Linked DNA regions of Homo sapiens. The protein of the gene in region 1 purifies or fractionates together with the protein of each later gene. This does not show direct contact. Each region holds a gene or a part of one and is shown on either strand. Other genes may lie near its edges.

What was found.
Region 2: the proteins of GLT1D1 (region 1) and RUFY3 purify together in Homo sapiens (affinity purification with mass spectrometry; 2 studies listed by BioGRID and IntAct, with this or other methods). This does not show direct contact.

The regions. Positions count from the first base shown.
Region 1 is NC_000012.12:128,940,261-128,944,085, forward strand, and holds part of GLT1D1 (glycosyltransferase 1 domain-containing protein 1 isoform 2 precursor), read left to right. Parts: intron 1-3,825.
Region 2 is NC_000004.12:70,787,875-70,791,699, forward strand, and holds part of RUFY3 (protein RUFY3), read left to right. Parts: intron 1-931; coding exon 932-1,099; intron 1,100-1,620; coding exon 1,621-1,718; coding exon of another isoform or gene 1,719-1,722; exon of another isoform or gene 1,723-2,023; intron 2,024-3,350; coding exon of another isoform or gene 3,351-3,423; exon of another isoform or gene 3,424-3,825. UniProt on the Homo sapiens protein: ARL8 effector that promotes the coupling of endolysosomes to dynein-dynactin for retrograde transport along microtubules. Acts by binding both GTP-bound ARL8 and dynein-dynactin.

The DNA.
Region 1 (3,825 bases):
CAGGCACAGTTCTAACAGCAACCAGAGAGGCAGCAGAGCATAGTTTTACGAATTCAGCCCCTGGGGTCAGGCTGAATGTGAATACAGGCTCAGCGCTTCATGTCTTCTCAGTCATTTACTCCTCCGAGCAATCCCAAGGTGCTAGAGTTCTCATTGGACAGACGAGCAAACTGACACGCAGAGAGGTCCGTTAATGTGCATGAGGCTAGTTTGGTGCCTGGGTGGCCTGACCCTGGCCCTCTGTATCCGGAGTCCCCTCAGTCTGGTGCTGCCTCTTTCTGGCCTCCACACATCCACTACGAGTTTGCTTAAAAACTTCTGGCCTGTCTTTGAGGAGCGATAAGTTTGAACATGTTGCTATTAATTTTTGCATGAATTCAACAAGTGTGTTATTAGCCTTCAGGAATGCAACAGGACGGAAATAGTCCCTGCCCCAAAGCACCTGTTCCTTCCAGATGCAAAGCAGGAGTCAAGTCGGGACTGGAGGATGTTAGGTTGTGACTAATGAAAAGGCTGCCCCTGGCCTTTAAAAAGTTGAGGTGGAATTCACATGCCACGAAATTCACCATTTTAGAGGGTACAAGCCAGTGGGTTTTAGTCTATTCACAAAGTTGTGCAACCATCACACCTATCTCATTCCTGAATATTTTTTCTCTCCCCAAGAGGATACCCTCTATCCACTAAGCAGTCACTTCCCATTTCCGCCTCACCCCAATAACCCCTAATTAGATCCTGAGTGACCCCTGGGTAACCACCAATCTACTTTCTGTCTCTGTGATTTGCCTGCTTTGGCCATTTCATAGACATGGAATCATACACTCTGTGGTCTTTCCTGTCTGGTGTAACTCACGTGGCATCGTGTTTTCCAAGCTCACCCTTGTTGCTGCCTAAGTTGGCACTTCCTTGTCACGGCTGAGTGGCACTCCTTTGTATGGATTGGCACATCACGTCTACTCATTCATCAGCTGATGATCAGGTCCTGGCCTTTCAAACTGTTTCTGCGAAGTCATCCTGTTAAAAAATATTTTGATATGGTCAGACCTTTGGTCATAGACTTACTAAGGATTCCAACCTATTCTGCCTGAATGATTTTATGACAAAATCCTTCTGCATCATTTAAGCAACACTTCCACTGCAATATTGGGTGGTTGTCAAATTGTCCCATTTCTGGAAACGACTCTGTCTCAAGACCTTAAGTTGGCTGAAGGGTTCTCACTCACCACACTCAGGTGTAGCCATACAGGCTCCTAACCAGAGTCTATATGTATTCTTTGGAACATTCTGTCTCTTCTTTCTCTCTCTCTTTCTCTTTTTTTTTTTTTTTTTTTTTGAGACAGAGTCTCACTCTGTTACCTAGGCTGGAGTGCAATGCGGTCATCTCGGCTCACTGCAACCTCCGCACCCCGGGTTCAAGCGATTCTTCCGCTTCAGCTTCCCAAGTAGCTGGGATTACAGGTGCTCACTCTACCCCCACGCCCAGTCAATTTTTGTGTTTTTAGTAGAGACAGGCTTTCACCATGTTGGCCAGCAGGCGGGTCTCGAACTCTTGATCACATGATCCCCCCTCCTCAGCCTCCTAAAATGCTGGGATTCCAGGCATGAGCCACCAGCATGAGCCACCGTGCCTGGTCTCTCTCTCTCTCTCTTTTTTTTTTTTTTTTTTTTTTTTACTATTATTGTTTTTATTATTTAATAGCTGGGCTCATAGTACCATTTCCTACTTATTTTTTTCCCTCTCTGAATTGTTGAGTCTGGCTCTGCTGCCATTTGATGTAATTCCTGGAGACTTAGCTTCATTTCAGGCTTTTGCTAACATGTGTCTTCTTTTTTTTTTTTCCACTGTTTTAAGGTCATTTATTAGAACACAGTCATTCAGAAGCCACTGAGACATCAGGCAGCAGGAAGGAAGGTGGGGTGGAGCAGGCCCTGTGAAGGACCAAGGACAAAGTAATAGCCTCAGTTATGAAATTTCATTTTATTCTGATAAAGACTAATGTATGCCTGATAACCTAGTGATAATCCACAAGTTTGGTAGTTCACAACATTTTTAGAAAGCACGTACGATTAACATTTAAATAAGGCATTATAGAAAGTTTTATAAAGAATGAAGTGTGTACTATAATTCTTTTAAGAAACTTTGGTTCATCTTGAAAGATCAATGAATTTTTAAAATATCAGAAGAAAAGGAAAATAAATTTTTTTCCCCAAAAATACATAAGAACTGCTTACTGGCACTTGTATTTTAAGTACCTGGGGAAAAAATGGAAAAGATTTTTAAAGGCAATTAATAACAGCTTGTACGAGGGCTTGTTTCATTTGTTCTGGCACCAAGTAAAGAGTAAATACGCCATGGAAGACGCCATCAGGTTTTCCGTCCACCTCTCCTACTGCCCCACTTCTCCCAGACCACACAGCACATCAGCAGCCATCCTTGCTGCCCCACTCAGGAATCACTTTAGATTCCAATTTTCTTTGTTTGTTTGTTTTTGTTTTTTGTTTTTTTTTTTTGAGACAGAGTCTCGCTCTGCCCCCCAGGCTGGAGTGCGGTGGCACGATCTAGGCTCACTGCAACATCCACCTTCCGGGTTCAAGTGATTCCCCTGCCTCAGCCTCCTGATTAGCTGGGGCTACAGGCGCGCCATCCAGCCCGAGTAATTTTTTGTATTTTAGTAGAGACGGGGTTTCACCATGTTGGCCAGGATAGTCTCGATCTCCTGACCTCATGATCCACCCGCCTCGGCCTCCCAGAGTGCTGGGATTATAGGCGTGAGCCACCACGCCCGGCCTAGATTCCAGTTTTTAAATGGCTTCTCAGATGACACCAACAGAGTTCTTTCCCTTTAAAATAAGGTGGCAGTGAATGCTAACAGGTATCGATTTCTTGGATCAGGAACAAAGAACTCCTTCAGGAAACTCACTTACTGGTCCTGGTTAACCTATTGTGTAAAGTCTTTTTATTGGCACACCTGTTTACTAATTATGATTGATTGCTATTTATGCCAAGGGAGCGTTTCCCAGGCATATCTCATCTATTTACTAACGACAAAGTGTGCTTACTTTATTTACATAGTGCCACAGGTTTTCTCTTTTCTCTCTTTTTTTTTTTTGGCAGGGAGTGGCACTATAACTTGTTATTTATCAGGGCGGATCATACATTTGGATCAAAAAGAGGAACCGGCAAGTAGATCCTAAAACACATTTCTCAACCTGAGTCACATCTGAAAACATATAGATTTTAATTACATTTTGTTGAAAATTCATTCAACTTCGGTGCTTGTCCAAGAACTTATAATGTTAATTTCTGACATAAATCATAACCCTCAGTACATATGTATTTTCAAAGGAAACAAGTCATCTTAAAGTAATATTTTTCTATATGCGAATGGATACATTGTTGTAGCAAATTGAAAATTCTGAGTAAACTGAAAGTATGCTTAACAACAAAATAAATACAGCATATATGGTTAGCATACACATTTCTTAGTAGCAGAGGATTTGTGTCTTACAACAAATCTGTAAACCCACTTGCTTTCTTTCTGGTATTTTATATAGTGTCTCCCCATGTTCCACAACGCTGGAGATGTCTTTTGTGGCATCGATCTGTGCAAACATTTCTGATCACATATTTTCCCCCAATGACATGTAACTTTTTTTTAACTTTTCCGGGAAAATACGGAAGCTTTATCAACCACTTATTAACTGAACAAAAACTTAGATTACTACCAAATGCTCTTTTAATTTTGCTCCAACAGATGTTTTAAAAGTTCAGACATCACTGATGTTTTTGAGGATAGCTGCGTAAAACACACTAGATGATTTCAAAGG
Region 2 (3,825 bases), on another chromosome or scaffold:
AGCCCAAGGCACAAGGCAGATGCAGAAGATCCTCAGGTCTTTGTATCTTCGATCACCCACATAATGTTGCAGTAATAATGGTTGAAACAAAAAGAGGTTTCATGTTAAGTGAACTAAAAATTCTGTTAGCGGCCGAGTGTGGTGGCTCACACCTGTAATCCCAGCACTTTGGGAGGCTGAGGCGGGCAGATCACGAGGTCAGGAATTCACACCAGCCTGGTCAACATGGTGAAACCCCGTCTCTACTAAACATACAAAAAATTAGCCAGGCATGGTGGCATGCACCCGTAGTCCCAGCTACTCAGGAGGCTGAGGCAGGAGAATCGCTTGAACCCGGGAGGTGGAGGTTGCAGTGAGCCAAGACTGAGCCCCTGCACTCCAGCCTGAGCGACAGAGCGAGACTCTGTCTCAAAAAAAAAAAAAAAATCTGTTCGCCTCGTAACCATACTAGTCATCATCCTCAGTAATTGCGATGTTACCCCAGGGACCCAGATGGTCCTCTGGGTTCCCTGGGCTCTTGAATATATCAACAACATTCACATTTAGGAGGACTGCAACTGCTTCATTTTGTGCTGACTGCTGTAACCCTGTAGGTATATTTCTATAATAAGATATGACCATCAGTTGTCGTAATATCTACTGAAGTGTCTCAAATATGTATATATTTTAGATGTATTAAATAACACTATCTTTGGCTTAGCAGGTTTTTCAGATTTGTACATTATTGGGCAAATGTTATTGTATATCCTAATTATTATTGTTAATTATTAATTAATTATTGTTAATGTCTCTGAAAATGAATGGTAGCTTAAGCTATTTTGCCAGAATATTCAGACCTGAGAGTTTTGGTGTACTTTTTCCTGTGAAATATTATGGTTTGTACTTAGTTGAAGGAACAGAGTGTAAGCAATTTACTTACCTTTGGGGGCAGGATGTTGAGAAAGAACTGGAGATGCAGATCAGCATGAGGCAGGAGATGGAATTGGCTATGAAGATGCTGGAGAAGGATGTCTGTGAGAAGCAGGATGCCCTGGTATCTCTTCGGCAGCAGCTGGATGACCTCAGAGCTCTCAAGCATGAACTTGCCTTTAAGCTGCAGGTAGGGGAAATATGAGGAATAGACTCACTGGCTCTCTAAAATCCTGGGGCTTCCCTCCTCCCATCTGATCCTCCAGAATCACACTTTAATTACAAGAGGAAAGAATCACATCTCATTTTGATGCTAGCTGCCAGTAAACTACTTTCAGAATCAGACAACCATGGGATCCTGTATTGCTGTTCTAGAAAACCATGGCCACTTTTCACATTATAGTAGAGGATGAGGGTCTTTTTTATCCTATAGGGTAATTTCTACTCTGCAGTCTACCGTGCCAGCTAAGTTATATATTCTATTAGCTTTTACACTGGAATGTGATACATTGATGAACTATTACTGTGATCACACTGCATATAACAATACTAACTTTAGATAAATTGCTTTTTTTTCCATTTCAGGATTAACTGATATTGAAATATATGAACATTTCTGTTTTCCCACTTACCATTAGATTCAAAAGGCATGTGTGGTTGTATTTTAGGATTTATGTTATACAGGTTGTTTATCGTTATTTTCCATAACAGAGTTCAGACTTAGGAGTAAAACAGAAAAGTGAACTAAACAGTCGCTTGGAAGAGAAGACTAATCAGATGGCTGCTACCATTAAACAACTTGAACAAAGGTAAAAGTCCTGTTTCTTTAATGAAACACTTTGGATTGTCAGTGCTGAAGTGAAAAGAATGTGCTGTACATTCGGCAAATAGAAAATACATGAAATTCTTCCAAATTAGCATCAGACATTCTGGTAGAAAAAAGCCAGTTGAATGTTATGTGTGTTTTCTAAGGTATGACTGAAATGTTTTTAGGAAATGTCAATCACTTGACTAGCCTTTAAAAAAAAAAAAGAAAGGTCAGCCTTTTATGACTGTTTTGAACATCAGAACTCTTAATCCATGTCAGAGTCATGTGTTAGAGGAAGGATACTTAAAAGCATGGAAGGACTCTTAAATGTATGTATGTAATTCTGTGATTTTATTGTTCATCACTGAAGTCTTTGAATACTTGGATGCTAGGGGATATAGAGGCACTGAGAGATAGGTGTCCTCCAAGGATCTATTCTGGATCTTTCTCTCCCTTCTTTAACCCTTTTCTCTTATCTCCCTTTTCTTTCTCCTGGGTAGTTCTGTAGCTTCCACTGTCACCTCCAGTGTGTTTTCCCAGCTCTTACCTTCATCTGGAGACCAGTCTTGAGTTTTCATCCTTTGGGCAGCTATCTTCCACCAGTATCTACAATTCAGTCTGCCCAAAGCACATCTTCTTCCTATGCTACTCTCTTTCTGTGCTTATGTGAAACCACCATTTTCTCTCTGGCAACTTAGCAGCCAAGAGAAATGGCTGAGTCTTCAAGGATGAATGTGACGTGGTACCCAAGGTCATTTGATGTTTCTACCCTTAACACCTGTTTGTCACCCTTCTTGCACTTGAGCAAAACTAAACTGCTGGTCCCTGTACTTCCCATTTTTCCCATTTATTTCTTTCCCAATAGTTCCACCAATTAGAAATGTCCTAATTCTTCCCACTCCCTTATTCGTCAGATACATTTTTAAGTTTAGGCTCAAATGCCACCTCCCCAGAGTTTCCTCTGATACCTCTTTGCAGCTAGAAATGATCTGTCTTTCTGGGAACTCCCATAGCTTCATACTCATATCTATCTATACTGCTTATGGCACTTCTCACTGTCTACTGTACCTTTTAACTCTTTATATATGTCTCCTCCGATGCGAGTGTAAGCTCCCTGAGATTAGTTAACGAATCTTTTAAGTTCCCGTATTAGATCTGTCGCAGTGCCTTGAATATACAAGCATTCATTCAGTAGATATATGAATGAATGGATTAATGGGTGATTTCTTATATTCAGATGATTCTTAACCAGTAAGGGTCCTGAACAGCAGTGCATATTAATGTTAACTCAAAACTTAATGGCAAATTTATAAATAAACCTGAAACCTCTTACATAGCCAAATACAAATGTATCAGTCTACCTAGGAAAGATGGTTAGGTACTTGCTCATAAACAGTTATATGTTTATGATTTAACAAAATGATTTTACTGTTCATAAATTGTGCTTTTGAAATGAAATGTATCAAATTTCTTTTCAATGATGTTTTGACTTGGAATTTAAAGCAAACAGAAAGAGAATAATGACTTATCTCTTTGAGTATTAAGCTGACTTATTCTCTTGCTATTTTTGTGTTTCCTGTTTATCCATTTTCTCATTCTCCTTTCACTTCATTGTCATTTTTATTTTATTTAGTGAAAAGGATTTGGTGAAACAGGCAAAGACCTTAAATAGTGCAGCAAATAAACTGATCCCAAAACATCATTAGGCATTTTTAAGTTGGTCACGTCGCAAGTCCGATATCACAACTTAATTGTAAAAGGAAGAAATCTGAAAGTTACTACATTTAAGCTCTGATTCTATATAAAATGTCACCAAAAAGTTGACTTTGAATTTGTTGGACTTTTAAAAAACCAGTTGGAAATATAGGTTGGGTTTTTTTCTTATTGTTTTCTCCCCAGGGTTAGAAAAATTGGTATAAGTTCCTAATTAAAAGCTGAATAAACTTTGAGAAATTATTTCTGAGTTGACCAATAAATAAAAATACCACTTTCTTTAAAAAAGCCTAGGGAATTGAAGCTCTGTACATATACTAATGATGCCTTTACAACCCAGTCCTTGATAATACCAGATTCTCGGTGCATTGTTCATGTCTGTATCTGCAAGCCTG